Linked DNA regions of Homo sapiens: region 2 is linked to region 1. The links come from fine-mapping of genetic effects on gene expression. A gene starts in region 1. The other region holds a variant in brackets. All regions are shown on one strand. Distances are from middle to middle.

Region 1 (16,665 bases):
TGAAGTTCCCCTGGTATAACCTCTTATCTAGGCAGGCATTCCTAGCTCACCCATACAGTCACACGGCCACCTAACAAGTATGCACTCCAGTCAGATCTTAATGAGTCTCGTCATATATTTCTCAAACTGTAGTCCTGGGACCAGGTATCCCAGAATTAGCTGGGGGAAATTTTAAACATGCCAATTCCCAGGACACAGCTGCTCTGGGGTGGGGCCTGGGGATCTGCATTTTAATGAGCTCCCTAGGTGACTGAAGGCCAGAGTTTAAGAAGCCCTCCCTTAACACTCCACATCTACTGAAGCAAACACGTTAAGTAACCACACGCATCCTGACTTACTGTAAAAGAACCAGAATAATTTTATTTTCCTAATGTGAGAAAGTAAGTGGCAGAGCACTAGGAACTTACTGTAGGGAACTAAAATGTCACTGCTGTATCATACCTCACCAGCAGATGCCAGCATAGAACACGATATGATTCACTCTGATAATTTCCCAGCCTTCAGGTAATTTTCTCTCAATATAAAATATGTTACTTTTTATTTTTGCATATTCTGTTTACATAGAGAACTTCATACATCAGGAGCATTTGGTAACACCTAAGAATTACTTTTTTCTTCAAAAATTTTCATAGAAACTTCATGAGAAATTCAATGGTATTTGCCTTATATGTTCAGTCTGCTTTACAGTTTACAAAGTGCCATTACCTACCTTATCTCATTTCATTCTCAGGGTAACCCTGGGAAATCAGTTTTTCCCAATTTTACGTATCAGGAAATGAAGTGAGGAAGTTAAGTAGCAGAGCTGCAAACCCAGGCATTCAGCTGTAAAGCGTGGGTCTCTTTGTGCCAATGTGAGAAACCTCAGGAGAACACAGTGGTGGCCTAGGCTCTTATCAGACAGTTAAAGCTCAACGATAAAGTGGCAACAGATTTTTAAATATGACATAAACTACCCTTGCCTTTTATTCAACTTGAAAATATTTAGTAAGGGTCCATTACGTGCCAGGCACTGTACCTGAAAGGTCTAAACAATAGTGATTAAATAACTTGAAATTGGCTGGGCGCGGTGGCTCACCCCTGTAATCCCAGCATGTTGGGAGGCCAAGGAGGGTGGATCACTTGAGGTCAGGAGTTTGAGACTAGCCTGACCAACATGGTGAAACCCTGTCTCACTAAAAATATAAAAAAAATTAGCCAGGAATGGTGGCAGGTGCCTGTGGTCCCAGCTACTCGGGAGGCTGAGGCAGGAGAATCAATTGAACCCGGGAGGCGGACGTTGCCCTGAGCCAAGATCCCACTGCACTCCAGCCTGGGCAACAGAGCAAGACTCTGTCAAAAAACAAACAAACAAACAAACAAAAACAAAAACAAAAAAAAAACAAAAAAAACTCCAGAACACAAAGATGGTCTCGATTAAATTTATTCAAAACATTTCTACTGAATGCCTACTACCTGCAGATACTATGTTAGCTATCTCCCCATTATGTCAGAATTATAATATTGTAGAATTATGGATGTGGAACTAAGAGATCATCCACCCCAACTCCCTCCAGAAGGTCACAAAGGACACAACTATGGGCAAAGGGACTTACCCAGTCACACAGTGAGGTAGTTCAAAGCTAAGCCCAACGGCTCAGTTCACAGGCTAGTACTTGCTCTTTCTACTCTGCCTTTAAAGCACGCAGTAAATAAATGTTTCCTGAATGCTTCTCAAAATCGCACTCAAATGCCACAAGTGCAACTCACCTCCCTTCTAAGATGGGTAAAACATGCGTACACTGGTATCCAGATGAAATGATTAGCCCACTGCACATCGAGTTCTTTGGCTTATTGTGGTAGAAGCTGAAGAGGCTGTCTATTCCATAGGCAACCTTGGGAATCCCGTAGCACTCAAAAAGAAGCTCAGACATCATTTGCCGTGAATACAGTGGGTTGCACACAGCTTCTGTCAAAACTATGGGATGATCAACACAGCCCTACTTTGAAAGAAAAGGGCAAATAAATGAGTGGTAACAGAATACTCTTTTTGAAGCATAAAAGAACCCAAAATCCTTATTGCAGGACTGAATTTGCTTTTGGCTTCTTAATCAAAAACCTGATCAGAGGCGATTATAAAACTCCCATCTCATCTTTACTTGAAAATACGAAAGTAGAGTCAATTTAAGTTATTAAGTCAAGGTCCCATCCAAACTGTCAGCAAATCGTGTTGGCTCTATCTTCAAAGTATTTCCAGAATCCAACTGCTTCTAATGACATTCCCTGCTATCTGCCTCATCTAAGCCACCATCATCCCTTACCTGGGTTATTCCAACAGCCTCCTAACTCGTCCCTGTTTCCACCCTATGATCCAAGACAATTCATTCTCCATACAGCAGTAATAGTGATCCTTTTAAAACACAAGTCAGGTCCTTCTTCAGCTCAACACCCTGCCATGGCTCCCCATTTCACTCAGTAAAAGCCTATAAGGTGTGTGATCTGCCTCTCCACTACCTCTCTGACATCCTCTTTCAGGTACTACTCTCCCCCTCACACAGGCAGCCTTGCAGTTAGGATTAGGGCACACTCCTGCCTCGGGGCCTTTTTACTGGCTGCTCCCTCTGCCTGGACCGTTTTTCCTTCAGATATTCACATGGCTTGCTACCTGAATCACCTCCTTCAAGTCCTTGCTCAAACATCACCTTCACGAGTCCTACCCTGACCATCTTACTGAAAAAATGTAACTCCCTCCTCTCCTATCACGGCGTAGAATCTACTATTTCTATGTTTACTGTCTGCCTTTTCATACTAGAATATCTTTCCATAGTATTAACAGCTCCATAAGCACAGGAAGTTTTGTGTTCACACATGTACTCCAAATGCCTAAAAAGTGCCTGACACAGAGTAAGTGCTCAATACGTATTTGTTAATAAATGGGCTTCTTAACAAACAAGCATATATGCCCAAAGGTATGCTCCAAGATACAAGGAGCAGCATTTTATTCGCTGCTACACCCACAGCGCCTAGCATCTGGTCGACTAAAAGACAATCGGAGCTACTGAAGTGACTGTTACCTCTCCGAGAGCAGAGTGAGCGGAGACGAGACCGCACCCCTCCCCTCAAACCCAGCCCAGCCCAGCCTACTCCGCCCTTCACCTGTGAGGAGACACCCAGGTGCTGGAAGCTGTAGTCCAGCAGCAACTCCTGAAGCTCCAGGTTGACCGGCACGTTGCGGTCGAAGGGCGAGCGCAGCATCCAGCGCAGTGGCTCCAGGCTGCCCAGAGCGTTCCCCACCTGCGGGCCCGACGCGCCCCGTGCCCCGCCACGACCGCGGGCGCACACCGCGCGGAACTGCAGGCGCGGCTCGGGACCTGGGTCCTGCCCGGGACACGCCCAGCCAGCGCGGACTTGGAACGACCCGTTGTCCAGCACCAGCGGTACCGGCAGTGGCCCGTGTGCCACCGGGCCGGCCTCCAGCACTGGGTCCGGTGCGGCACGGGCGTCGCGGAACGGGAACACGTTCGCCGCCATCTTGGAGCGCGCGTCCAGCCCCGCCCCTCGGCGCAGTGTCCGCCCAGACGCCGCGAAACCGCGCCCCCGACGTCACGCCGCGCGATTCAGGCCTTTAAGTACCTCGATGCCCCCTCCCTTCTCGAAGCCCGGCCAGCCTTTCCACTTGACTCGCCTCTGGCTGTCAAGGCTGCTTTCAGGATCGCTGAGACGTACCCATTCTGGCTGCGAAATTCTACGTTTCTTAACCTCTCCCCCAATAGCCTATGAGTGCCCACGCCCCTTCACTCTAGCCGGGACGCCCGGTTTGGAAGCCCCGCCCCAAAGCCTATCGCCGCCAGGCCCCGCCCCTTTCTGGCTGCCAGCTTCAGCGCCGCGCTCGGTGGAGCCCCGCCTCTCTGCCTGGCCACGCCCCATTGCCGGGCGCGCACCGTCGGCCGGGCGCGCACCGTCGGCCGGGCGCGCACCTTCGACCGCCGGCGGCCCCGCCTCCGCGTGGCTGTCTCGCCCTCAGTCTTGCGTCCTGGCTAGAAGGGTCCTTTATCTTTTGACGCTTCCTTTACGTTAAGAAATCTCAAACTCTGCCGACTGTTCAATTTCTTGACTAGGGAGCTGACTACTCAGTTCTGTTCACTTTACTAACTCGCACAGACTGTGTCTTCTCACTAAGACACAGTGTTTTCTCAAACCCTGAGAAAAGACTGCTGATTGTTCCCCAAGCATTCCCTCTCTTTTAGTGGCATCACCTCCCACTCCCACGTGGCCATCCGTCTGGCTGCGATCTAGATGCGCTCATGTGACTAAATTCTGGCCAGGAGCGGGTGGGAGAGGAGGCCATGTGTGTGACCCACTCAGTTTTAGCCCTAAAAGCACTCGTCGCGCTCTATCCTGTCGCATTTCCATCTTTTCACTAGCTAAGGGGGTAAGAATTAGAGCAGTTGTTTTACTACAACCTTTTTTTGTGCAGTGGGGCGATCTCGGCTCACTGCAGCCTCGACTTCCTGGACTCAAGTGATTCTCCCGCCTCAGCCTCCTAAGTAGCTGAGATTACAGGCGTGCACCACCACGCCCAGCTAATTTTTATATTTTTAGTAGAGAAGGGATTTCACTATGTTGCCCATGCTGGCCATAACCATTTTGAAAGAAGAAAAAGAATAGAGCAGCTGCCTTGAATCTACTCTACCAGGTCTATAACACTTCAGTTTGAGAGATAAAATCAAATTAGTTACAAAAGATATTGTAAGCGAGAAATGAAACTCCTAACTTATCTCAAGAACCTCTATTAACAGTGTTTGTTGTTGTTGTTGTTTGTTTTTTTTAAGACGGAGTCTGGCTCTGTCACCCAGGCTGGAGTGCAGTGGTGTGATCTTGGCTCACTGCAACCTCCACATCCCCGGTTCAAGCAATTCACCTGCCTCAGCCTCCCGAGTAGCTGGGATTACAGGCATGCTCCACAACACCCAGCTAATTTTTTTTATTTTTAATACAGACGGGATTTCGCCACGTTGGCCAGGCTGGTCTCGAACTCCTTGGCTCAAGTGATCCGCCTGCCTCGGCCTCCCAAAGTGCTGGGATTACAGGCTTGAGACGACGGGCCCAGCCTGTTAACACACCTAAACCAGATTGGGAGCCAGCCCAGTGGCAAAAATCAGGTTGTGTTGTCTTTCAACACACGTCCATTGTTCAGATATCTGAAGTAACCATCGTTAAGTTAATTAAGAGGGGGACCAGCAGAACACAGAAACCAGTAAATGTAAGTTAGTGAATGTTAATTTAAGAATTGTGTCTATGTATATTAATATGAAAAAGCACTGGCTGGGCGCAGTGGCTCACACCTGTAATCCCAGCACTTTGGGAGGCCGAGGCTGGTGGATCGCCTGAGGTCGGGAGTTCGAGACCAGCCTGGCCAACATGGTGAAACCCCGTCTCTAGTAAAAATACAAAAATTAGCTGGGCATGGTGGCAGGTGTCTGTAATCCCAGCTACTTGGGAGGCTGAGGCAAGAGAATCGCTTGAACCCTGGAGGCGGAGGTTGCAGTGAGCCGAGATCACGCCAGTGCACTCCAGCCTGAGCAACAAGAGTGAAACTTTGTCTCACAAAAAAGAAAAAAAGAAAAGCACCAAGGTAAATATATATATTATATATATTATTATTTTATATATATATGAGAGGCAACTCCAACGGGGATGGCCAGTGTGGTGGCTCATGCCTGTAATCCCAGCACTTTGGGAGGCTGAGGTGGGAGGACTGCTTTAGCCCAGAAGTTCAAGACCAGCCTCAACCTCACTAGTAGTTGGGACTACAAGTGCACACCACCACATAGAGACAGAGTTTTGCCATGTTGCCCAGGCTGGTCTTTATAAGCGTTTGGCACATGAGGTAGATTGGATTATTATTCCCAGTTCTTCATTCCTTTACTTTTTTTTTCTTCACTCCTTTATAGTAGGATGATACATCCATACCATTTGCCTTGTAACTTTGTAGAGCCTCTCCTTGAGGACACTGATATTAGGCTTGGTCATGTGACTTGCTTTAGCCAATGGACTGTTAACTGAATATGATTGGTTTAGATTGCCTTCTTGCACTCCTGCTTTTAGTCATGAGAGGAACATACCTGAGTCCAAAGAGGATAAGAGATACATGGAGCAGATCTGAACCTAAACTGCAGTCCGAAGCCAAGTCCAGCCAACCTGCAACCTAAAGTTGAGCTGCCCCATGGACCTCTGAACAAGAAAAATGTTTATTCTTATAAACCACTGAAATTCTGGAGTTGCTATGCAGTATTATTGCAGGAGAAAACCGACTAATACACTAGACCAATGCTGTCCAACAGAACTTTGTACATTGGAAATGTGCAAATTGATGGAGATGATCTAGTATCTGTTGTGTCTAACACAGTGGCCAGTAACCACATGTGGCCGCAGAGCACTTGAAATGTGAATAGTGTAACTGAAGAACTGAATTTTTAAAATGTTCTTAATTTTAATTTTTCTTTCTTTCTTTCTTTTTTTTTTTTTTTTGATGGAGTTTCGCTCTTGTCACCCAGGCTGGAGTGAAGTGGCACAATCTCGGCTCACTGTAACCTCTGCCTCCCAGGTTCAAGCGATTCTCCTGCCTCAGCCTCCCGAGTAGCTGGGATTACAGGCATGCACCACCACACCCCGGTAATTTTTGTATTTTCATTAGAGACAGGGTTGCACCATGTTGGCCAGGCTGGTTGTGAATTCCTCACCTCAAGTGATCTGCCCACCTCGGCCTCCTAAAATGCTGGGATTACAGGTGTGAGCCATTGCACCCAGCCTTAATTTTAGTTTAAATTTAAATAGTCATGTAGCTAGTGGCTACTCTATTGCACACTGTAGCACTAGACAAAATCTAGGGCTGTAAAGATTTACCCATGGAAATGACTAGAAAAAAATACATTAGGCTGGGTGCAGCGGTTCACGCCTGTAATCCCAGCACTTTAGGAGGCCGTGGGGCAGATCACTTGAGGTCAGGAGTTCGAGACCAGCCTGGCCAACATGGAGAAAGCCTGTCTTTACTAAAAATACAAAAAATTAGCTGGGCATGGTGGTGCACACCTTTAGTCGCAGCTACTCAGGAGGCTGAGGCACAAGAATCACTTGAACCTGGAAGGTGGAGGTTGCAGTGAGCTGAGATTGTGCCACTGCACTCCAGCCTGGGCAACAGAGCAAGACTCTGTCTCAAAAAAAATGCTTTAGAAGCCTACTGTATTATTTTCCTAGCTGCTGTAACATAGTACCACAAAGTAGGATGACTTGAAACAAGAGAAATTTATTTTCTTACACTTCTGGAGGCAGAAGGCTAAAATTAAGGTGTCGGCATGGCCATGCTCTTCTTGAAGGCTCCAGGGTAGTATTTGTTCCACAGCTTTCTCTTAGCTTCCTGGTGCTGTCAGCTATGATGGTTGGTTTTATGTCAGCCTTTCTGGCTGCCCAGATATTTGGTCAAACATTTTTCTGGGTGTTTTCTATGGAGTGCTTTAGGATGAGATGAACATTTCAATCAGTAGACTGAGTAAAGCAGATTTCCCTTCCTAATGTGAGTGGGCCTCATCCAATCAGTTCAATAGAACAAAGAGGCTGACTCTCCCTGCCTGAATGGCTTTGGACTGGGACATCAGCTTTTTTCCTTTTTTTTTTTTTTTTTTTTTTTGAGACAGAGCTTCACTCTTGTTGCCCAGGCTGAAGTGCAATGACACGATCTCGGCTCACCGAAACCTCTACCTCCCAGGTTCAAGCAATTCTCCTGCCTCACCCTCCTGAGTAGCTGGGATTACAGGCATGTGCCACCATGCCCTGCTAATTTTGCATTTTTAGTAGAGACAGGGTTTCTCCATGTTGGTCAGACTAGTCTTGAACTCCCGACCTCAGGTGATCCACCCGCCTTGGCCTCCCAAAGTGCTGGAATTACAGGCATGAGCCGCCGCCCAGCCTTTCCTGCCTTTAGACTTGAACTGAAACATAGACTCTTCCTTGGTCTCAAGACTGCTGACCTTCAGACTGGAACTACACTACTAAGGCCAGTTCTCAGGCCTTCGGACTTGGACTCTGATATGGTTTGGCTCTGTGTCACCACGGAGATCTCGTGTTGAATTATAATTCCCAGCGTTGGAGGTGGGGCCTGCTGGGAGGTGATTGGATCATAGGGTGGTTCTAATGGTTTAGCACCATGGACCTGGCTGGTCTTGTGGTAGAGTTCTCACAAGATCTGGTTGTTTCTCCCTTCGCTTGCTCTCTCCTGCTCCACCATGTGAAGATAGTACTTGCTTCCCCTTTGCCTTCCACCATGATTGTTAAGTTTCCTGAGGCCTCCCCAGAAGTGAAGCTTGTATAACCCGCAGAACCATGAGCCAATTAAATCTCTTTTCTTTGGAAGTTACACAGTCTCAGGAACTTCTTTATAGCAGGGCGAGAACGGACTAATACAGACTCAGACTAGAACTAAACCATTGGCTCTCCTGGGCCTCCAGCTTTCCAACTCACCCTGAAGATCTTAGAACTTGCTTACCTCTGTAACTGAGTAACCCAATTCCATGTAGTGTGTGTAAGTATGTATACATATATAATATTAGTTCTCTTTCTCTGGGGAATCCTGACGAACACACCTGCAATCCTCAGTGACGAACACACCTGCAATCCTCAGCATTGCTTGGCCTCTCCAGTCTCTGCTGCCGTCATCATGTGGTGCTCCCCTTGAGTGTATCTGTCTCTTTTCCTCTTCTTTTTATTTTTTAATTTTTTTTTTTTTTTGAGATAGAGTCTCGCTCTGTTGCCCAGGCTGGAGTGCAGTGGTGCCATCTTGGCTCACTGCAACCTCTGCCTCCCAAGTAGCTGGGATTACAATCATGCGCCACCACGCCCAGCTAATTTTTTGCATTTTTAGTAGAGACAGGGTTTCACCATATTGGCCAGGCGGGTCTCGAACTCCTGACCTTGTGATCCACCTGCCTCGACCTCCTACAGTTTTGGGATTACAGGTGTGAGCCACCACGCCCAGCCCACTTTTCCTCTTCTTCTAAGAGCACCAGTCTTATTGGATTAGGGCCCCACCCTACTTCAGTATGAGCTTCACTGATTATATCTGTACTATGTACCTGCAACAACTATATTTCTAAATGAGGGCACATTCACGGATGTAGTGAATCAGAACCCACATTAAATACACCTTCTATTTGGTTTAAGTTATGGCCATGTTGGCTCCTGTCCTAAGTAACACACACACACACACAGGTGATCATATGATGTATCTAGTCTTGTTCCTTAGAGAGCCTTCATGACAGGACTCAGACGGTAGAACTATCAGAAAACTGTTCCAAGGAAACCATGTGCCATGCATTCTGCCTGCAGCTTGGTGGGGAGGATGTGATGAGAACAGGTATCAAATTAGGCTGTTGAACCTTAATTCATCATGGCTGACCAAGGCCTTGTGCTGGACTTGGTTCAGGGCTCGTTGGGCCAACTGCCTGGGAAACAGAAAGGATATCCACGTAACTGAGGAGACAGGTGGCAGACTAGGACTGGGGGCAGGTGATTTAGCACAGGGTCTCCAACTTCATCCCAGATCCTGCTAACCCACTGGTTGGAATAATCAGATATAGGGCATGCTGTGGCCTTTTAGTAGCCTGTACCTTTGCACATATGTATTGTTGATGCAGACCGAGATGCTCTGCCCTACATCGTTTGCCTCTAGAATCCTCATTAAGGGCCAGCTCAGATGTCACTTTGGTCTTCCTTCCCTGGGGAATAGAGCAGAGTGTCCCATAAGGTGCTTACTATGGGGCAGGTTCCCTTGATCACAGGTGACGAGAGCCTTGGTTGGTGAGAATGTGTTAGGTAAGTTAGTGCTATGTCCTCCTCTAAGCCCTCAGGTTAAGTAGATGGAGCAGGGGGCAGGGGACTGACAGTTCACACCTCAATAAGGGGATTTTTTTAAAAGGAAAACCCTACAAGAATAGGAGAATGGGAGAGAGAGATTTCAAGAACTGGAAAGTATACATGCAAGTGGTATCTAGTTTAGAAAACCTGATTCCCCAGCTGCTCTGGGAAAAGCTGAACACTAATCTGTTTCACACTGTACAATGCTGAAAAGTCTCAGGAATTAGTGGCACAAGGTTCTTCTAGAAAAGAGAGTAAAAGTGGAACGGCCAAAATAAGGAGAACTTGTTAAAACTATTTTATGAAGAAGCCTGCCGAAGTCTATAGGTGCTCTTCTTTCTAACTGCCTCCAGAATTCCCCAAAAAGACTGGAGGTTTGACTCTTTGCAAAGAGTAAAACAAATAGTCTCTAAACAAGGATATCAACTGAGAACAAAATGATTAAGTCAATATACATAATGAATGCTAAGATCCCAGTCTCTTCCCCTACTTTGTTCCTGATACTCTATAGGTTCCCAAGTTTTTACCCTTCAGCGAAAGAATGGAAGAATCTTCCCTGAGATTCTTATCCAACCTGAGAGGAAAACTCTAAGTGAATTGGTCTTGGATGTTCTCCCTCAAACAGCCCATTGAGATCATTTTACGATGAAACTCACAGTCAGTAGGACTCTTCCATGGACTCTGCACCTCCAATCAGCCTCTACTAGCCCAATCAGCCTGTACTACCCCAGTCTTTAAAATGAGGTACGCTTCTAACATGAAAGCCAGAGGTTAAAGCATACAAAGAGGGAAGAAAATCAACCAGGAGGCAATAGAGACTACGTGAAAAAGAGAAACCTTAAAATACTCATTATTACTACAATATCTTCAAAGAGATAGAAGAAGATATTGTATCCATGAAACAAGAAAAGTTTGCTATAGAACAGGGAGGTTAAGAGAACCAAAAGAAGGTTTCGGGGGCTTGGGGTGAGGGACAAGATAGCAGAAATGAAAAACTTCGTAGATGGAAGATAAAGTTGAGAAAATCTCCAATAAAGTATGTGTGTGTAGAGAAAGAGGGAAAGAGGAAAGAAAAATAAGAAATTTAGAGGAGCAGTTCTAATCTACAAATAATAGAAGTTCCAAAAGACAGAACAGAAAACATACAGAGGGCCATCCCAATTCAAGGCAACTTCCTAGAATTGAAGCACTTGAGTTGCTGTGTTGGGAAGAAGCCACAATGAAAGGAAACAGATCTACATGAACACACATCATGAAATTTCAGTTCCCTGGAAACAATGAGAACATCCAGTCGTTTCCAAAGAGAAAGAAAATGTTTGCATACAAAAGAACAAAGATCAATTTCAAACTTCTCCTTGGCAACATCGAAAACTAGAAAACAAATGGAAAGTGCTTTCAAGTCTAAAGAAAAATGGTTTCCAAACTAGAATTCAGCCAAACCCTCAATCAAGAACTGGGGTAGAATATAGACATTTAAAGTTATTCAAGGCCTCAAAAATGTACCTTCCATAACCTCCCTTATATTCCAGAAGCTATTGTGGAATCTGCTTCAAAACAAGGGAGTAAACCAAGAAAGAGAAATCACGTGAGACAGGAGACAGGAGCTGCAACATACAAGTGAAGTAAGAGAACCCTGAGGTGATTGAAAAGCCGGATCCCAAGAGGACAGCTGTGCTACAGGCATATGGGGTGCTGGCCAGGTTGGAGTGGGTCTGCTTTGGGAGAGACTTCTTCAGGAAAGGGAAACTGATACCATATTTTGTGTGAATGAAACAATTGAGGGGTGTTTAGACAATTGGAGGAGAGTTTGGGGTTCAGTTATTAAAAAGTATTTGAGGCTGGGAGCAGTGGCTCACACCTGGAGGCCAAGGATCACTTGAGCCCAGGAGTTTGACGCCAGCCAGGGCAACATGGCAAGACCCTGTCTCTACAAGAAATCAAAACAGTTGGCCAGGTGCAGTGGTTCACGCCTGTAATCCCAGCACTTTGGGAGGCCAAGGCAGGAGGATTGCTTGAGCCCAGGAGCTTGAGACTAGGCTGGGCAACATAGCAAGACCTCATCTATGGAAAAAAAAATCATCTAAGCATGGTGGTGTGTGCCTGTGGTCCCACCTACTCAAGAGGCTGAGCTGGGAGGGTCACTTGAGCCTGGGACGTCAAGACTGTAGTGAGCTGTGATCTCACCACTGCACTCCAGCCTGGGCAACAGCTTGTCTCAAAAAAAAAAAAAAAAAAAATCAAAAAATTAGCTGGGCATGGTGGTGCATGCATGCCTATGGTCCCAGCTACACAGGAAGCTGGGGTGGGAGGATCGCTTGAGCCCAGGAGGTTGAGGCTATAGTGAGCTATGATCACACCACACCACTCCAACCCTGGGAGACAAAGTGAGATTCTGTCTCCAAAAAAAAAAAAAAAAGGAATTTGAAACAAACAAAAAGGCAACTTCTTATACAATAAAAAGTTGTACAGGAAAGGAATTGTAATCATAGTTTATCACATGCCCCAGCTCTAATTAGTACACATATCATACAATGTAAATCTTGAGTACTAAGCTAACTAAAATGATCATGTAACTATACTGGGAAACTGAAGGGGCGGGGATGTAGACTGGAGAAGAATTAGGAAATGGACTAAAACCTCACCTTCCTGAGTGGGAGTCAATAATTAAGGTCCAAAATGAAAAATAAAGAAATTGCAATAAAAGCATTTTTTGTGGGGGCAGGGGGTGGGGGAGGACAGAGTCTTGTTCTGTCGCCAAGGTTGGAGTACAGTGGTGAGATCTCAGCTCACGGCAACCTCCACCTCCCAGGTTGAAGCAATTCTTATGCTTCAGCCTCTTGAGTAGCTGGGACTACAGGTGCCTGTCGCCATGCCAAGCTAATTTTTTGTACTGTTAGTAGAAACAGGGTTTCGCCATGTTGGCCAGGCTGGTCCTGAACTCCTGACCTCAAGTGATCTGCTTGCCTTGGCCTCCCAAAGTGCTGAGATCACAGGTGTGAGCCACCACACCTGGCCCAATATAAGCATGTTATTTGGAGATGTGGAGATAAATATTAAAAGGATCAAGTGCCAGGTGCGGTGGCTCACATCTGTAATCCCAGCGCTTTGGGAGGCCAAGGCGGGTGGATCACCTGAGGCCAGGAGTTTGAGAGCAGCCTGACCAACATGGAGAATCCCATCTCTACTAAAAATACAAAATTAGCCGGGCGTGGTGGCACATGCCTGTAATCCCAGCTACTCAGGAGGCCGAGGCAGGAGAATCGCTTGAACCCAGGAGGTGGAGGTTGTGATGAGTCGAGATCTCGCCATTGGACTCCAGCCTGGGCAACAAGAGTGAAACTCAGTCTCAAAAAAAAATAAAACGGGATCAAGTGTAAGAATTGAAAGTAGTTGCCTCTGGGGAAGGAGAAATTGGAGGAAGGGGCTACAGAGTGCTATTTTAGTTAACTTGTAGAATTCATTGATTCTTTAAATTATGTGTATATGTAATACAAAAAATAAAACTTAAAATATTGAAGTATGGCCAGGTGCAGTGGCTGTAATCCCAGCACTTTGGGAATCCAAGATTGGAGGATCACCTGAGGTCAGGAGTTCAAGATCAGCCTGGCCAACATGGTGAAACCCCGTCTCTTTTAAAGTACAAAAATTAGCTGGGTGTTTTGGCACATGCCTGTAATCCCAGCTACTTGGGAGGCTGAGGCAGGAGAATAGCTTGAATCTGGGAGGTGGAGGCTGCAGTGAGCTGAGATTGTAACACTGCACTCCAGCCTGGGTGACAGGGCAAGACTACATCTCAAAAATAAAAAAAATAAATAAAAATAAAAAATAAAAAATTGAAGTATGGGCAAAGGCATATTAAACAAAAGCAAACAAAAGGAAAAAAAGGCAAGTTAATTTGAATATCAGAGAAAGTATGTTAAACTCTCCTTGGTTGGGCATGGTGGCTCATGCCTGTAATCCCATACTTTGGGAGGTTGAGGTGCAAGGATAGCCTGAGGCCAGGAGTTTAAGACCAGCCTGGGCAACATAGTGAGACCCCATTTCCACAAAAATAAAAATAAAAAAAGTAGCCAGACATGGCAGTGCACACCTGCAGTCCTAGCCACTCAGGAGACTGAGGCAGGAGGATCACTTGAGTCCAGGAATTTGAGGCTGCAATGAGCTATGATCACACTACTGCATTCCACCGGGGGCAACAGAGTGAGACACTATCTCAAAAAAATTGTTTTTAATAAAAAATAAGTAAACTCTCCTACTATGTTTGTAAATTAGTCCATTTCTCTACATTCTATATTTGGAACCTGTGTTATTAAAAACACCAAGTTTAGAATAATCATCCTGGCATATTTTGTCATTTTTTGTTTGTTTGTTTGTTTGTTTGTTCTGAGATGGAGTTTCACTCTTGTTGCCCAGGCTGGAGTGCAATGGCGCGATCTCGGCTCACTGCAACCTCCACCTCCCGGGTTCAAGCAATTCTTTGGCCTCAGCCTCCTGAGTAGCTGGGATTACAGGCATGCACCACCACGCCCTGCTAATTTTGTATTTTCAGTAGAGATGGGTTTTCTCTATGTTGGTCAGGCTGGTCTGAAACTCCCGAGCTTAGGTGATCCGCCCACCTCAGCCTCCCAAAGTGCTAGGATTACAGGCTTGAGCCACTGTGCCCCGCTGGCAGCTTTCTTTTGATTAGTATTAGCCTGGCAAATGTTTCCATCTTTTTATTTTAATCTTTCTCCATCTTTTGTTTTAGATATATACCTTGCAAAGAGTGTATAGATGGACTTTCAAATTTCAATCTGAGAATCATTGTCTTCTGACTGGCTAGTTTAGTCCACTTATCTTTATTACTTATTCATTTATTTTTACTACCCTGTATTGACTGGAAGGGCCTTTATTTTGCTCCTTTTCTTTCTTTTCCTTTTCTTTCATTTCCTTCTTTTTCCCTGACTTCTACATTGATCATGTTTTCTTTCTTTCTTGTCTTTCTTTCTTTCCTTCCTTTCTTTCTTCTTTCTTTCTTTCTTTCTTTCTTTCTTTCTTTCTTTCTTTCTTTTTCTCTCTTTCTCTCTCTCTCTCTCTTTCTTTCTTTCTTTTTTGAAACGGAGTCTCGCTCTGTCACCCACACTGGAGTGCAGTGGCATGATCTCGGCTTACTGCAGCCTCTGCCTCCCAGGTTCAAGCGATTCTTCTGCCTCAGCCTCCCAAGTAGCTGGAACAACCAGCAAGCGCCACCACACCTGGCTTTTTTTTTTCTCTGAGATGGAGTCTCACTCTGTCACCCAGGCTAGAGTGCAGTGGCGCGATGCAAGCTCCACCTCCCACTTTCACATCATTCTCCTGCCTCAGCCTCATGAGTAGCTGGGACTACAGGCGCCCGCCACCACACCCGGCTAATTTTTTGTATTTTTAGTACAGACGGGGTTTCACCATGTTAGCCAGGATGGTCTCGATCTCATGACCTCGTGATCCGTCTGCCTCGGCCTCCCAAAGTGCTAGGGTTACAGGCGTGAGCCACCATGCCCCACACCTGGCTAATTTTTGTATTTTTAGTAGAGACGGGGTTTCACCATGTTGGCCAAGCTGGTCTCGAACTCCTGACCTCATGATCCGCCCACCTTGGCCTCCCAAAGTGCTGGGATTATAGGCATGAGCCACCGCACCCAGATCCGTGCAAGTTTTCTTTATTTGCTCTTTTCCTTCTACTAGGTTGGAAGTTACACGTTCTCCATCCATTTGTTGTCGTTCTTGTCATTGATGGTTGTGATAGTGGTGGTGTATGAGTAACACTCTTGCTCATCATTAAGCCTAAAGTTAATGGTATTTCTCCCTATATTTGAATTAGAAAGCCATAGAAGATAAGACTTCAATTATTCCCTCCCATCTTAGAGGTTATTTACCAAAATTTTAGTTCCACCTTAGATCCCAAGAATTGGTTATTGTTAATATTGTTTTCTATGGGCAGTACTTGCTCAGGCACAGATTTGCTTCCTACATAGTCCTTCCTTGTGGGTTAAGTTTCTTTCTTCCTGAAGTCTATTCTTTGATAGTTATTTCAATGAGAGGCTGTTAGTGGCAAACTCTCACCTCCCAGACGTCTCAGATGGATTAAGCTCCCATTATTGACAGGTGCTTCCCTACCCATAAAGTTTCCTGAATTGACATTCTTCCTTTCCTTCCCCGTCTCACTTCTCCACTGTGCTACTGGTACTTCTTGGTATCAGCTCTCATGTGAACTACTTCAGTCAAATAGGTCTGTTGCTGGGGGAATCTAACCGACGGCAGCCTCTTTTCAGTCCTCATCTTTGTTCGTCAGCTTCCTCTCTCTTCAGCTTCTCTTGGTCGGCCTTACTTACTTGTATTCTTCAACTCTCCCGCTTTGAACACCTCTTCAGAGTAAAGGCTCCATGACAATTGTTTCCAAGTCTGATCTCACTCTTCTTTGAGAAGCTTCTAGGTGTGTTTCTTCTACTCCAAAATTTAGAAACAAAGAGTACACACATGTATTAGTCCATTTGTGTTACTATAAAAGAATACCTGAGGCTGGGTAATTTATAAAGAAAAGAGATTTAATTGGCTTACAGTTCTTCAGGCTGTACAGGAAGCACAGTGCCAGCATCCACTTCTGATGGGGCCTCAGGAAGTTTTCAATCATGGCAGAAGGCGAAGCGGGAGTAAGTACCTCACATGGTGAGAGCAAGAGCGAGGGATGGGGGTGGGGTGCCATGCTCTTTTAAACAAAACAGTCAGATCTCACGTGAACTCAAAGTGAGAACTCACTTATCA
Region 2 (16,665 bases), 35 kb before region 1:
TGTTCTTTAATTTCTTGTTTATTTTTATATTAGCATGACCTTTATTATCTTATTATTTTATATTTTTAAAATCCTTTGGTCCATCAACTTCATTTATAGTAACATCATTTCCAAATACATATTTTTGCAGGGATACTCTTTGCAGTGCTATATGTAACAGAATAAACTTGGAAACAGATTTATTCAAATGCCATTCAAAGATAGAATGATTAAATAAACCATGGAATGAAATATAATAGAATACTATTCAAATGTTTAAATGAATGAGTTACTTCACAAGGAATGTACAGGAACTATATGACTAAAACTTTCAAAGGCTATTATGTGCCATGAGACTTGAATAAAGGAAAAAGTCATATCCATTTTTGGCTAGAGGAGTCAATTGAAGAAAAGATACCATCTTTCTATCTTTTCATCTATAATTTTAATGGGATACAAACAAACATACCAACAGGATTATTTTGGATCTTGACAAGCTGATTCCAAAGATCATGCAGGGAAATCAAGAAAAGTTCTGAAAAAGAAAGAGAAATGCGGGAGACAAACTCTGCCAGATCTTAAAGTGTATTATAAAGTGACAATAATAAACTGTTCATTGCAAATTCAGAAATAGAAAGATGAATGGAGCAGAAGAGCAAGTCTGGAAGTAGACCACAATATTTAAGGTCATTTAATAAATAATAAAAGTGGCATTTACATTAGTGGAGAAAAGACGGATTACTCACTAAATATTGTTGGTGCAACTGGCTAGTCGCCTGAAAAGAAATTCAGCTGGAGACTTACTGCAAATCTTTGCCAGGATAAATTCCAACTGGATAAATAAATTATGGTACATGCATACAATAAAATACTACAAAGCAATGAAAATGAACCACAGCTACACACAACATGAATGGATCTTAAAAACAATGTTGGCCGGGTGCAGTGGCTCACACCTCTAATCCCAGCACTTTGGGAGGCCGAGGTGGGTGGATCACCTTAGGTCAGGAGTTCGAGACCAGCCTGGCCAACATGGTGAAACCCTATCTGCACACACACACACACAAAAACACAAAAATTAGCTGCGCATGGTGGCATGCCCATGTAATCCCAGCTACTTGGGAGACTGAGACAGGAGAATCACTTGAACCCGAGAGGCAGACGTTGCAGAGATTGCATCACTGCACTCCAGTCTGAGCAACAGAGTGAGACTCCGTCTCAAAAACAAACAAACAAACAAACAAAAAACAATGTTTAGGGGCTAGGTTCAGTGGCTCATGCCTATAATCCCAGAGCTTTGGGAGGCCAAGACAGGAGGGTTGCTTGAGCCCAAGAATTTGAGACCAACCTAGGTAATAAAAGGAGGCCCCTGTCTCTACAAAAAATAAAATAATTAGCTGGGCATGATGGCACATGCCTGCAGCCCTGGCCACTCAGAAGGCTAAGGTAGGAGGATCACTTGAGTCCAGGAGTTTGAGGCTGTAGTGAGCCTCAAACTCATGATTGTACCACTGCACTCCAGCCTGGCTGACAGAGTAAGACTCTGTCTCAAAACAACAACAACAGAATAATGTTTAGGGATGCATAATGAGGTAGCAACATGATAAGGAACATGAAATAGAATACCACTGACATCAGTACAATGGTCTCTTCTAAGGAGGAAGGAGTGGATTTTAATGAGGGAAGATGGATCATACTGGAGGCTTCTAGGGTGGCAGCAGTATTCTATTTCTTGACCACAGAGGGTGGTGGTCATGCAGGTGTTCATTTAGCCACAGTTGTTTGGGTGTACATTTATGTTTTATATCATTATATGTGTGTATGTATTACCAAAAAGGATTTTTTTTTTTTGAGATGGAATCTTGCTCTGTCACCCAGGCCAGAGTACAGTGGCATGATCTTGGCTCACTGCAACCTCCACCTCCCGGGTTCAAGCGATTCTTCTGCCTCAGCCTCCCAAATATCTGGGACTACAGGCCCGCGCCAGCACACCTGGCTAATTTTTGTATTTTTAATAGAGACGAGGTTTCACTATATTGACCAGGCTGGTCTCGAACTCCTCACCTCAAGGGATCTGCCCGCCTCGGCCTCCCAAAGTGCTGGGATTACAGGCGTGAGCCACCGTGCCCAGCCCAAAAAGGATTTTTAAAAAACCACATATGTGAAAAGAAAACGTAGGATTTTTTTTTTGTTATCTCAAAGTGAGTGAGGCCTTTTAAAGTATGACATAAAACCCAAAAGCAATTTAAGTCCACGAAAAGAATCTGAGTGGAAAAACACCCCAACAAAGTTAAAAGACAAATACCATCATAGGAAAATGTTTGCAATTCTCATCCGTTTCTTAAGAGAAAAGAGCCAAGGAGGCCGGGCGCAGTGGCTCACATCTGAAAACCCAGCCCTTTGGGAGGCTGAGGCAGGTGGATCACTTGAGGTCAAGAGATCGAGACCAGCCTGGCCAACATGGTGAAACTCCATCTCTACTAAAAAAAAATTTAAAAATTAGCTGGGCATGGTAGTGGGCACCTGTAATCCCAGCTACTCAGGAGGCTGAGACAGGAGAATCGCTTGAACCTGGGAGGTGAAGGTTGCAGGGAGCCAAGATTGTGCCACTGCACTCCAGCTTAGGTGACAGAGTGAGACTCCATCTCCAAAAAAAAAAAAAGAAGAGCCAAGGTTGGAGAGTAGATTTTCAATGCATTATCCATGAAAAATAATATTAAGATAAGGGAAAAAAGCAGAAGCTTGGTTTGTATTGACATGGAGTGATCTTCAAGACATATTGTTAAGCCATAGTATGCTACCGTTTGAGTAAAATTTATATGTATATGTCATAGATATGCTGATTGCATGTCCATGGCGTTATCGTGTTTGTGACACATATAATTTATACAGACATACATTATAAAGAGACAAGGAAGAAGCATCCCCACCTGTAATCCCAGCTACTCAGGAGGCCGAGGTGAGAGGATCGCTTGAGCCCAGGAGTTTGAGACCAGCCTGTGAAACAATAGTGAGACTCCTGGGTTTTTGTTTGTTTGTTTGTTTTTTAAGCAGCAGCTCACTACGCACTGCTACTGAGTGATATCCAAGAAATATTGCTATATGATAAACAAAACAAGGCTAGACAAGAGTGTCATTACTTTTTATCTTATTTTTTGAGACAGTCTCACTGCAACCCAGGCCAAAGGGCAGTGGCACAATCACTGCTCACTGCAGCCTGGATCTCCCAGGCTCAAGTAATCTTCCCACCTCAGCTTCCGGAGTAGCTGGGTCACCATGCCTCACTAATTTTTTTTGCTTTTGTAGAGACAGGGGCCTTGCTACATTGCCCAGGCTAGTCTCAAACTCCTGGGCTCAAGGGATCCTCCCACCTCAGCCTCCCAAAGTGCTGGGATTATAGGCATGAGTCACTGTGCCTGGCTCAACTTTTTAATTTTTTTAATGGAAAATTTTAAACACACACAAAAACAGAGAAGTATAACCAGCCCCTGTGTACCTATTCCCCCATATTCAGTGACAATCAACACACGGTCACTCACTCTTGTTTTATCTATAAGCCTTTGCCTATTTTGGAGCAAATCCCAAATATGACTCCAGCTGCCAACATTTCAATATGCATCTCTATAAGACAAGCTCACTCACTCTCTCTCCCTCCATAAAACTACAAAAATCACAACCACATCTTTAAAAACTATCAATAATTCTTTCATATTATTAAATATCCACATTTGCCAGATTTGCTCAGAAGTTTCTTTTATCAAACATGGCTTATTAGAATTAGGAACCAAACAAGGTCCACACTTTATATTTTTGTTATGCTTTTAAATTTTCTTTTTTCTTTTCTCTCTCTCTCTCTCTCTTTTTTTAAGGCCAAGTCTTGATCTGTCACCCATGCTGGAGTGCAGTGGCATGATCTCGGCTCACTGCAACCTCTGCCTTCCAGGTTCAAGCGACCCACCCATCTGATCCTCCTGAGTAGCTGGGACTACAGGTGTGCATCATCACGATTGGCTAGTTTTGTTTTTTGTTTTTTTTTTTTTTTTGTATGTTTTGGTAGAGACAGGGTTTCACCACGTTGTCCAGGTTGGTCTCAAACTTCTGCCCTCAAGCGATCCGCCCACCTTCGCCTCCCAAAGTGTTGGGATTACAGGCGTGAACCACCGCACTGGCCTAAATTTTCTTTTAATTTATATCTTCTCCCTCTCTTTTCCCCCTTTGCAATTTGTTTGGTGGGGGGAAAATGCTATTTGTCCTGGAGAGTTTTCTGCATTCTGGATTTTGCTGTTTGCAGCCCTGTGGTGTTATTTATCATGTTTGTGACAGACTGTACTCGTTTGTCCCATTTAGCAACTACCCTTCTCCACTCTGACCTTTGAATTTGCCCTTGGAGACTGCCATGTGTGAATTACATCAGCTGCGCTCTCTTGCCCTCTGGCTTCAGATGGGTTTGGCCAATAGGGAGCCCTGGCAGGTGTGGGAGGGAGGGAGGACAATGCAGTTGGGGCGTGTATTTCCCTGTCTCCCTCCTGGCAAGGCCACCTTGGTTTGGCTGTGCTTCTTGACTGAAGCTGTGTCCCTCTCAACACAACTGTTCTATACAACTCTTTCTCCTTCCAAATTTGGGTAGCCTCTCCTTTCCTATTGTAAAGGCTTCTCTGAGGACCTTCCCAGGACCCTGCACCATCTTTACACCCTGCCTTCACATCTCATTCTCCTAACCTGAGTATCCCATCTGCTTCCTGTTGGGATGCTAATTCATAATATGTTTCTCTGTCCCCAGAATTTCTAGTAAAATGGCAGTTAAATTTAGTGGCTTGATCACATTCAGGTTCAAATTTTTTCCTAAGAATTCTTCATGGATGATGTGCAGTATGTCGTATTGTATCACACCAGGAGGCACATAATATCCATCCATTATAAAGATGTCCATCAACTCTTTTTCTTTCTTTTCTTTTTTTTTTTTTTTTGTTTGAGACCAACTCTGTCTGTCACCCAGGCTGGAGTGCAGTGGTACGATCTCGGCTCACTGCAACTTCCAAGTGATTCTCCTGCCTCAGCCTCCCAAGTAGCTGGGACTACTGGGGTGTGCCACCACGCCTAGCTAATTTTTGTATTTTCATAGACGGGGTTTCACCATGTTGGCAGGCTGTTCACGAACTCCTGACCTCAGGTGATCCACCTGCCTCGGCCTCCTAAAGTGCTGGGATTATAGGCATGAGCCACTGTGCCCAGCCTTCCATCAACTCTTCACCGAGTGGTTTTTAGCTGTCATTGATGAAGAATTTGTCTCTTGCCTTTATTTCATTAGGAGCTAGAAAATGGTGGTATTCGGGAGGCAGAGGCTGCAGTGAGCCAAGATCACACCATTGCACTCCACCCTGGATGACAGAGCCAGACTGCGTCTCAAAAAAAAAAAAAAGAAAGAAAGAGAAAATGGTGGTAGGTATTTCATCATTCTGTTTTCATTTGTTTAGCTAGAAATCCTCTACAAAGAAAAACATTCCCTTATTATCTGTTCGGTTGCCATGAGGTACAGTTTCTACAAGAAAGGTGAGATCTATGCCTGCTTTTGCCCTTTATTTCCTAGTTTCAGAATGATGAACTGGTTCCCTAGCATTCTCCAAAGGTGACCATGATGAATTCATAGATTTTAGTATGTTTCAACCTTTCACTGTTATTTTTTCAGATGCTCAAATTGTCCCATTCCTGGGCCAGCGGGAGCCCCTTCAAGTGGACTCCTGAATTTTGAGGGTTTTATTGTTGTTGTCATTGTTGTTTTGTTGTTGTTTGTTTTTTTTGAGATGGAGTCTCACTCTGTCGCCTAGACTGGAGTGTAGTGGTGTAATCTCGGCTCACCGCAACCTCTGCCTCCCAGGTTCAAGCGATTCTCCTGCCTCAGTCTCCCTAGCAGCTGGGATTACAGGCGCCTGCTACCACGCCTGGCTAATTTTTTGTATTTTTAGTAGAGACAGGGTTTCACTGTGTTGGTCAGACTGGTTTTGAACTCCTGACCTCAGGTGATTTGCCTGTTTGATTGGCTGTTTGTTGTTCTAGGCTAATTAATTAATATTTGTAAAGAGAAAATACATCATGTGTTCATATGGATACGTGCAATTCAAATTTAGGATTATATGATTTTTCAGTTTTTATTTTATATTTTTATATCTTGTTATACTGAAAATCTTGGTTGCTAACAATGTTAACATTATTTGAATATATACACACATATTTATATCTTCAGAATAATCATACCAATGCCATTACTAACAACATAATTACTGAAAACAGTAAGATTTCTTACTGTGCGGTTATTTTTTGTTCTTAGAATATATCCCACTAAAGATATACATTCAACTACTGTGGTTTCTTTTTTTCCAACTACCATGGAAAGTCACTTAAAATAAAGTCACCTAATTAAAGTCACTTAAAATAAGTCCTCTCCGTGTGAGTAAACCACCAACTTGATATATAATGAGGTTCAATTGTTTCACTTTGCTTTGATTTTAAGGATTGTGCTTTTATTTTTATTGAAATTGGTTTGTTTTGTAGTAGTGTATAACATACACACAATTCTCAAGTCAAATATGCAAAGTATGTATTGTTAATTTAAAACGAAGCAAGGCCTCTCAAACTCTTTGTTCGAAGAAAATCATAGTCATAGGAGAAAGATGAACAAAGAAACTTGCAAAGCTCTTCTGGCCAATACAGACATTGTAGACCTTCATTTTTTAAAAAGAGATGTCAATTGCAAGGTTATTACCAGGGCAACATGCAATTAAGCAAGGTTACCAATTTAAAAGCAGATTAAAAAAAAAAAAGTACACAGTTACATTTCTTTGAAGCCCAGGTGGCTTAAAAGATTCCTTTGTTTCATATACCATTTGCAGCAGGTATCAGAACTGGATGAGTCACACATTCTCACCTAAGTGCCTGTCCTGGGAGCAGGGGGCGGAAGGAATGATCTCCTGGGTGCTTTATCAGAACAGGCTTTCACCAGCTTTATGAGGCTCTCAGGAGAGTGTCTGCTTTTCCACTCTTGCAGCGGAAGAAGGAACATCTCCTTTGTCTTTCTGAGATTCCCTTCTCTAGAAGTTGTCAATCGGGAGAATCTGCATTCTCAAGGTCAAGCTCTGGAATTCCATTAGACAGCAGGGAGCCAGAAGAGCAGGCTGAGGAGTCAAATCGAGAAATGGAAAGAAACAAGCCAGGAGAAGTCTTACGATTCTGCTTCTACAGCCTGCAAAGAGCCAAAGCCGAGGTGCTGCACGGCCCTGAGCTACACCTCTGCTCTCACTTTCATCACCCTACCAGGCTCCTCGGGTGGCTTCTTCCCACATGCCCCCCCCCCCCGCCTCCCAAGACGGAGTTTCGCTCTTATAAACGGGCTGGAGTGAAGTAACGTGATCTCAGCTCGCTGCAACCTCCTCCCCCGCAGGTTCAAGCGATTCTCCTGCCTCAGCCTCCAAAGTAGCTGGAATTACAGGCACCCACCACCATGCCCGGCTAATTTTTGTATTTTTTAGTAGAGATGGGATTTCACCATGTTGATCAGGCTGGTCTCGAACTCCTGACCTCAGACGATCCACCCACCTCAGCCTCCCAAAGTGCTAGGATTACAGGTGTGAGCCACTGCGCTCAGCCTGGGCCGCTTCTTTAAGTTTGGCCCTTCTGCAGAGTCAGCTTGGAATTCAGAAAAGAGCCTTCAGAGATTTTGCATTCCTGTCATTTTGGTGCTCCCCAGAAAGCTTTGGAGTGGCATCAAAGGATCTACCCACTCACCCTGTTCCCATAGCCCCTAGCTTGGCACACACCAAGGAGTGCCAGAACTGGCTGGATGTGATCGGTATACCCTGGATTTCCCAGTGTGTCTCAGCAGTTTTGTAAGAGCTTTCTTATTGCACAGGCCCAGATGTGAGAAAAGTTGTCAAGAAAATGAGGGCAAGTCATCCTCTCCTTTGGGGCCTTCTGAAAATATCCTGGTCCATTTTATTCATATCTTAGAGTATACTGTAGCATTTGAGTGTATCTTCTCTGAATGGCTAAAGGAATGCCTGTAGCAAAGGCTGGCAGAATCACCATCAACACGAGGACCTAGTTCACACTCTTGGAGTGCCCCTTTCTATTGATAACCAGGGCACGGTTATTAATAGTCCAAATGTAAAGCCTTGGAGACTTAACACCACTTGTGATGAAACCCAGTCCAGATTATTGCTGAAGCATTGCAAGCTGGGGAGTATCAGTGGGTAAAGCCCTGCCCCCATGACTAAAGCAAAAGGGTTTCCAGAAATTTGTCCTGGCTAGGGCATACGATCAACCTCAATGCCAGGCAATCCACAGGAGGTTCCCCGGGCAGGGGATCGGCTGGACAGCACTACCCTACTCCTGGCCACGTGCTCATCAAAACCTGATGCAGGCCGGGCGCGGTGGCTCACGCCTGTAATCCCAGCACTTTGGGAGGCTGAGGCAGGTGGATCACGAGGTCAGGAGATCAAGACCATCCTGGCTAACATGGTGAAACTCCGTCTCTACTAAAAATACAAAAAACTAGCCAGGCATGGTGGCACACGCCTGTAGTCCAAGCTACTCGGGAGGCTGAGGCAGGAGAATCGCTTGAACCCAGGAGGTAGAGGTTGCAGTGAGCCAAGATCACACCACTGCACTCCAGCCTAGGTGACAGAGCGAGACTCCATCTAAAAAAAAAATAAATAAATAAAAATTTAAAAAACTGATGCAGGCTGGGAAGTGCAGGCAGCCAAATTCATCTCCCAATTCTTGTGGAACCAGAGGGTTGTGTAGACTGAGGAATGGCTGCCTGCAGAACCCCACCCCACTCCATGTCCTCTGGAACTTTTCCAAAAGGCTACTTAAGCTGGGCACTGGCCAGAGGCGAAGCCCCCTCCCTCATCCTGTTAAGCATTCCTCAGAGGAATGTCCAAGCTGAGAGACTAGCGTCAAGGAAATGACCTCCCTCCATCCCTACTCTCCTGTACTGGAAAGGGCCAACTTGCAGGTTAGTGCTGAAGACCATCTTTTTTTTTCTTTTTTTTTTTTTGAGACAGGGTCTTGCTCCTCTGTCACCCAGGCTGGAGTGCAGTGGCGCAATCATGGCTCACTGCAGCCTTGACCTCCCAGGTTCAAGCAATTCTCCCGCTTCAGCCTCCCGAGTAGCTGGGACTACAGGCGTGCACCACCACCATCAGCTAAGAGTTTGTTTTTTTTTTTTTTTTTTTTTTTTTTTTTTTAGATGGAGTCTCGCTCCGTCACCAGGCTGGAGTGCAGTGACACGATCTCGGCTCACTGCAACCTCCACCTCCTGGGTTCAAGAGATTCTCCTGTCTCAGCCTCCTCAGTAGCTGGGACTATAGGCATGTGCCACCACACTCAGCTAATTTTTGTATTTTTAGTAGAGATGGGGTTTCACCATGTTGGCCAGGATGGTCTTGATTTCTTGACCTCATGATCCGCCCGCCTCAGCCTCCCAAAGTGCTGGGATTACAGGCATGAGCCACCACGCCAGGCATTTGTTTGTTTTTTAATAGAGACAGGGTCTTGCTATGTTACCCAGGTTGGTCTTGAACTCCTGAGCTCAAGCAGTCCTCTCATCTTGGCCTCCCAAAGTGCTGGGATCACAGGGGTGAGCCACCACACCCAACCAAGACCATCTTTTTACATTTCTCTAGAAGACTACTACATAAAAAAAATTCATACTGTTATGGGATTCACAACATAATAGTAGATAAAATACATGACAATACCACAAAAGACCAACCGAGGGGAAACAGAGTTATACTGTTATGGTAGCATTCTGACATTGTATGTGAAGTATTGTAGAATTAATTAATGGCAGACTGTAATTTTTTTTTGCCTGCGACCCCCCAGAGTGTAATATTTTAAGGATATATATTGTAATTCCTAGAACCACCACCATACACACACACACACACACACACACACACACACACAAGGGCATACAGTCATAAATAAATAGAAATACTAAATAACTAAAAATGAAATACTAAGAAATTAAACATGGCTAAATGACCTGCTTTGGCCAGTGAAATTTGAGTACTCGTGGTGGATATGTTCTGGGTGGCACATTTGGGAGCCAGGACTTAACGCTTGATGTTCTCTTTCCTTGCTTTGCGTTGAGAAGGAAGGATCATAAGATGGTGTGGAGTAATTAATTATCCACAGCAATGCATCACCCCCTCCCCACACTCCACCATACTGGTATTTACTGAACATGCAGCATAAGAAATATACTTGGTGTTAAGCCACTGAGATTTTGGTGTTTGACACATACATTTGCATTTCCTGGAATAAAACCCATTTGGTCGCGATGTTTTTGTTTGTTTCGTTTTGTTTTGAGACAGCGTCTTGCTCTGTCGCCAGGCTGCAGTGCAGTGGTGCGATCTCAGCTCACTGCAACCTCCGCCTTCCGGGTTCAAGCAATTCTCCTGCCTCAGCCTCCCAAGCAGCTGGGACTACAGGCATGTGCCATCACGCCCAGCTAATTTTTGTATTTTTAGTAGAGACGGGGTTTCACCATGTTGGCCAGGATGGTCTTGATCTCTGGACCTCGTGATTTGCCAGCCTGGGCCTGCCAAAGTGCTGGGATTACAGGCATGAGCCACTGCACCCGGCCATGATGTTATTTTTTAACGTGTTGGTGGATTTCAATTGCAAATAATTTGTTTTCTCCATTGATATTTTTAAGCAAGATTGTTTTGTGTGTGTGTGTACAACCTACTGGATTTTGATAGCAACATTATACTCACTACATAAAAATCATTTAATTTTTTTTTCCTATGCTCTGGTAAAGTTTAAGGAACACTGGAAGTATCTAGTGTTTAAGGCTAATAGCTATTAAACTCAACTGGACCTGGAGTTTTTTGGAGGGAGGGGGGCAGCTCTGTGGCAATTTTCTTGAGTTCATCTATGGAAAAAAAAAAAAGTCTGTTTGAACTTTATATATCTCTGTTAAGGTCAGTTTTGGTGAATTATTTTCCTAGAAAATTCACTTTTTTAAAATTAAAGGCTTGAATGCAGAAAATTGACAATTGCAGCTAGATTTTCTCACGTATTTCCAGAGTGTGTGAAAAATAGATGATTATTTATTTGAGACAGGGTCTCACTTTGTTGGCCGGGCTGGAGTGCAGTGACACATTTATGGCTCACTGCAGCAATCCTCCCACCTCAGCCTCCTGAGCAGCTGGAACCACAGACATGCAACACCACACCCAGCTGATTTTTAAATTTTTTTGTACAGGTGGAGTCTCCCTATGTTGTCCAGGCTGGTCTCAAACTCCCAGACTCAAGTGATCTTCCTGCCTCGGCCTCCCAAAGCGCTAGGATTACAGGTGTGTGTCACTGAGCCCAACCTATTTCTTCTTTTGATGACTAGTACCTTATTTATTACATGCATTTGTGCTTTCTACATTAATTAGGTTTTCTAGTAGTTTAAAAATGTTGCCATCCTTCTTCAAATTTATCATTTTTGTTTTCTAATTATTCAACTTATTTAACTTCCTAGTATTAGTGCTGTTAAAAAGTCTGACACCATCTAATTTCCCTTTCTTGTGTAAGCCTGCATGGAGGCTGAGAAGACTTTTTTTTTTTTTGAGACAGTCTTGCTCTGTTGCCCAGGCTGGAGTGCAGTGGTGCGATCTTGGCTCACTGCAACCCTGGCCTCTTGGGTTCAAGCAATTCTCATGGCTCAGCCTCCCAAGTAGCTGGGATTACAAGTGTGCACCACCAAGCCCAGCTAAGTTTTGTATTTTTAGTAGAGATGGGGCTTTGCCATGTTGGCCAGGCTGGTCTCAAACTCCTGGCCTCAAGTGATCTGCCTGCCTCAGCCTCCCAAAGTGCTGGGATCACAGGCATGAGCCACCACTCCTGGCCCGAGAGGACTTCTTTTATCTTTAAAATCTAATCGTTTCACTAGGATCTGACACCTCTGAGTCAACTTTCCCAAGCACACAGAGTGGCCTTACAGTATTTATATTCAGGGTGGTTTGTTTTGTGGGGGAAGAAAATTTTATTATCAGTTTAAACATTAATTCTATTCCAGTGTTTTTTCTTCAACATAAAACGTAATGTAGTTGATAAAACCTAAATATAAGACCTGAAAAACTCCTAGAAGAAAACTCCGGGAAAAAGCATCACGACACTGAATTTGGCAATGATTTCTTGGATATGACACCAAAAACAGACAATGAAAGCAAAAGCAGGCAAATGAGACCATATCAAACTTAACTTCTGCCCATTAAAGGAAACAAGAGTGAAAAGGTAACCTACAGAATGGGAGAAAATATTTGCAAACCATGTATCTAATAAGAGGTTAATATCCAGAGTATATAAAGAACTCCTATACTCAACAAAAAATGAAATAACCCAATTAAAAAAGGGGCTAATGACATGAATAGAGACTTCTCTAAAGAAGGCATGCAAATGGCCAATAAGCAAACAGAGAGATGCTCCACATCACTAATCATCACGGAAATGCAAATCAAAACCACAATGAAATATCACCTTACCCCAGTTAGAATGGTTATTATCAAAAAGATGAAAGATAGTAAATGAGGAAACTATCAAAAAAAAAAAAACAGCATAATGAGTTGGTGAAGATGTGGAGGAACTGGAACTCTCATGCACTGATGGTGGGAATGAAAATGGTGCAGCTGCTATGGAAAACAGTACGAGTGTTCCACAAAAAATTAAAAATAGAACTACCATATGATCCAGCAGTCCCACTTCTGGGTATATATCCAAAGGGATTGAAATGAGGATCCTGAAGAGATATCTGCACTCCCATGTTAATTGCAGCATTGCCTGCAATAGCCAAGAAATGGAAGCAGCCTAAATGTCCATCGAAGGTAAAGAAAGAAAATGTGGTATATCCATATGATGGAATGTTATTCAGCCTTAAAAGGGAAGGAAATTCTGACACATGCCACAACATGGAGGAAGCCTGAGGACATTATGCTAAGTGAAATAGGCCAGTTACAAAACAACAAATACTGTATGGCTTCTCTTATGTGAGTTATCTAAAGAAAAACTCTTACAAAGTAGAATGGTGGTTGCAAAGAG[C/T]AGGGGATGGACAGAGGCAGGGGGAAGGGAGTTGATGGGTATTGAGTGTGGTTTTACAAGATGAAAAAGTTCTGGAGATCTTTTGACCAACAATGTGCACAGAGTTAACACCCCTGTTCTGGACGCTTAAAAACGGTTAAGATGGGCCCGGCGCAGTGGCTCATGCCTGCAATCCCAGCACTTTGGGAGGCTGAGGCGGGTGGATCATGAGGTCAGGAGATCAAGACCATCCTGGCTAACACAGTGGAAACCCCATCTCTACTAAAAATACAAAAAATTAGCTGGGCTTGGTGGCACAGACCTGTAGTCCCAGCTACTCGGGAGGCTGAGGCAGGAGAATTGCTTGAACCCGGGAGGCGGAGGTTGCAGTGAGCTGAGATTGCACCGCTGCACTCCAGCCTGGGCGACACAGTGAGGCTCTGTCTCGGGAAAAAAAAAAAAATGGTTAAGATGGTAAAGTTTGTCATGTTGTTTTGACCATCACCACCACAAAACTCAATATAGTTAAATTTTCTTCTTCAACTACAGTTTAATTTCCTTTGCCTCTTTTCCTTATCTATTACTTTCTTATTTCATTTCTTTTCAATGGAGTATCTTCCCCCTGTGCATCTTCTATTTAGGTTTGCGATAACCTTTCCTTTTTCCTTTGTTTACGGTCAGCTGTGGTCTTCCACTCTCTCCATCACCACTGCCCCTTCCCTTCCGGTCTGCAGTTTCTAAGCCCTTGAGAGCTGGAGATCCAGGTGATGACCCTTGGTAGACTGTATGAGCAAACAGGTTCTAAGGTGGCCTCATCAGAGGGGTGGGCTAGAGGCTCCATAAGATTTAAAGGTACAAATTCAGTGACAATATTAGCTCAGGGGCCTTCTGGGATCAATAATTGGTTGTCTTTGAGTTAAAATTCTCACCGAGCAATCTCTGTGAAGGTGAGGGGTTATCTGTCCACTTAAGACACAGCTGGGAAGGTACAGGGAATGGGAGGTTATGGCAAAACTGAACAGGCTACAGGATAAACCTCCTCCAGTCTTATCTTTCTTCCAAAAAGTCTGAAAAAGTTAAGAAGCCAACAAACTCAGAAGGACAGAAATAAAACATTTGTAGGCCTTGTATGGTGGAAAAGTTTACAGCAGAGAAAGTATGAACAAAGTTGGGCCACTGGCTCTGGCACCAAGCAAGTCCCTGGCTTGCAGAGTGACCTCACATGCTGGTAACTTTCTGGGCTTTTCTCCTTATCTGTAAGGGGAAAAAATAGGAGGAGGGAAATATTTCCGGTTCCTGAGGCAACTGCTTTTATTGAATAAACATTACCTTTTATGAAAAATGTATCTTTTTAGAGACAATGTCTTCCTATGTTGCCCAGGCTGGAGTGCAGTGGTTATTCACAGGTGCGATCACAGCACACGATAGCCTCGAACTCCTAAGCTCCAGCGATCCTCCTGCCTTAGCCTCCCACAAAGCTGGGCCTTAACAGGCACGTGCCACTGTGCCCGGCAATAAACATTACCTTTTTATATGCATGAAAGACCTCCCCTCACTGGGCATTCATGCAATTTCTGAATACATCCAGAAGAATAAAGTATCTACACGGACAAGATAAATTTTAAAGAATTTTTTTTAAAACAAGAAAGACTAAAATGTGGTAAGAAATCAGTCTTGTGCATTTTGTACATTTGTGTCCTCCACTCTGTCTTCATTTACTGCTCCAGGAAGCTGATGCCACAGCTGGCCACAGTTGAACAAAGACATCAGAAGGCCAGTTAGTCTCTACCACAGAAGCCCCCAAGTGAACCGAATTCTGAAGGGCAGGTCTCAGTGTCCCTTAACTTTGTTCTCCCCAGGAGAAATCCATTTTGCTGCCAAATGTGACCAGCAGACTTGGGCAGGTACATCTAGCACAATCACAGTCCTGTCACACTGCCAACGTGGCCCAAGGCATGGCGTGCAGGGCAGTCTCTCTGGAGGGCCTCTGCTATGCCTGCTCACCAGCACCACCTCCACCAGCAGCGGAGCCCTTGCTGGATGCCTGGGCATCTGAGGAGCGGGAGGCCTGCTTCGGCAGGCGGATGGGGACATAGATGTTGGAAGCACAGTGCTCCTTGAGGTACTCTCCTCCCTTTTCTTCATACTCTTTCCTGGTGATCCAAACTTCATTATCATCTAGGTGGTTCAAGGCCCAGTCACGAGCACCGTACCAGGCATCCAGCACAGGGTTCGAGGCAAGTTGAACCTGAAACACAAAGATTCACCAGGACACCTCCACCAGGGCTCCAGGAGTGAATGTTGACCTGGCTCAGCTACAGCCCCCGATATTTTATCCCCAGAAATATACACATAGGTGGGCCCAGTGCACTCCAAGACAGTTCGGGGCTAGCTCCACACCCTGTAAACAAAGGTGAGCTGGAATGCCCAGACTCTCCAGAACAGACGGCTGTCAGACATTTTACTAACATAAGACCTGACACTCGGGGTCAGAGAGGGGCCAGTGGCTCAGCCTCCTGCTGCCTGATGCTGTCAACCACAAGCTGTCAGGGAGAGGTGAAGTGGAGGCTGGCCCGTGACCTGGGGAAAAGGCCTTCCTGGCCCCGCTCCCCACTCTGAGTAGAGGGAAACAGGGGCCGCTGCAAGGCAGCTCTAGCCAGGGTAGCAAAAGAGCCTCAGGAGAAATGGCAGCAGAGAGGGGTGACCTGGGCGTTCTCTGTGAGGCTGCCAGCACTTAGTTTCCCCTGCTTCTCACTGGAGTTGGGCTGGGGTTCAGCAGCTCTGAGAAGGCCCTCGGCTAGGCTGATCTGATCATTATGGTAACACTGCAGCTTCCATCGGGCCTCCTGTGTTCTGGAGTTACCCGCCTCACTTCCTACCTCCCTCTCACCTCCCCACTCCACCAATCCCATGAGTTCCAGGTTAGAATGGTGATTTCAGAACTTTCGGGACTGAAGGGCAGAGGCCATAACAGTGGAATCAACATGCACAAATGGAGGTGGGAAAGTGCAGGCTCAGGAGTCCAGCTGCTGGGCTTGCCACGTGGGCAAGGGGCCTGTGAATGAGGACCTTGTCACTAGGATAACCAGAGGCCCCACCCCCTGGCTTCAGGGGATTTAAGTGCATGAGTGTAAGGCACATGGTAGATGCTGCCTGGTACAGAGTATTCAATAAAGCATAGCTGTCATCATTACTAATAAAAAATGCAGCAAGACATATGGTTAATAGACTATACAGCCATAAAAAGGATGCTCTGGAAATGTACCTATTGATATAAAAAAATTGTCATAATAATTTGAAAGTGAAAAAAATACAGGTTACAAAATAAGCTATCACCAATCTCTTTTTGGTTAAAACCATACATGAGATGAAAACGACTGGAAAGTATACAAAGAACATTGCTCGCAGAGGCTGAAACTACAGTTTTCTTGGTTTTCATTTTGGTTTAAATTGTCTGATATTTTTGTAATATTTAAAAATGTTTTACTGTTTAAGAAAAAACAGGAACTTAAAGTTGTAAATTTGCACATCTTGGGGTTCTCTTCCTTCTAATGATCACGGAGGGCCTTAGGTGGTTGGTATGTTTGAGCCACTGCTGAATACATAATCTAAAATTGG

Evidence for each region. PIP is the estimated chance that this variant, and not a neighbour inherited with it, causes the effect. A credible set is the group of variants that fine-mapping cannot tell apart.
Region 2: its variant is the best candidate, but not a certain one, in a credible set for the expression of ACTR5 in whole blood (TOPMed, PIP 0.86).

The regions. Positions count from the first base shown.
Region 1 is chr20:38,735,321-38,751,985 of GRCh38, reverse strand. It overlaps ACTR5 (actin related protein 5), which reads right to left and starts at 3,526. Exons shown (of 9, transcript NM_024855.4): 1 at 3,133-3,526; 2 at 1,747-1,976. The coding sequence starts at 3,507. RefSeq lists silencers at 3,291-3,480, 3,781-4,050 and an enhancer at 3,429-3,930.
Region 2 is chr20:38,770,189-38,786,853 of GRCh38, reverse strand. It overlaps ACTR5 (actin related protein 5), which reads right to left. Exons shown (of 9, transcript NM_024855.4): 9 at 14,334-15,295. The coding sequence ends at 15,038. LOC124904902 (a long non-coding RNA gene) reads right to left here and starts at 7,356. Exons shown (of 2, transcript XR_007067584.1): 1 at 6,902-7,356; 2 at 18-514. RefSeq lists enhancers at 3,643-4,252, 4,253-4,864, 5,358-5,858, 5,859-6,359, 6,692-7,356. The variant C/T (reference allele first, on the strand shown) is at 13,069.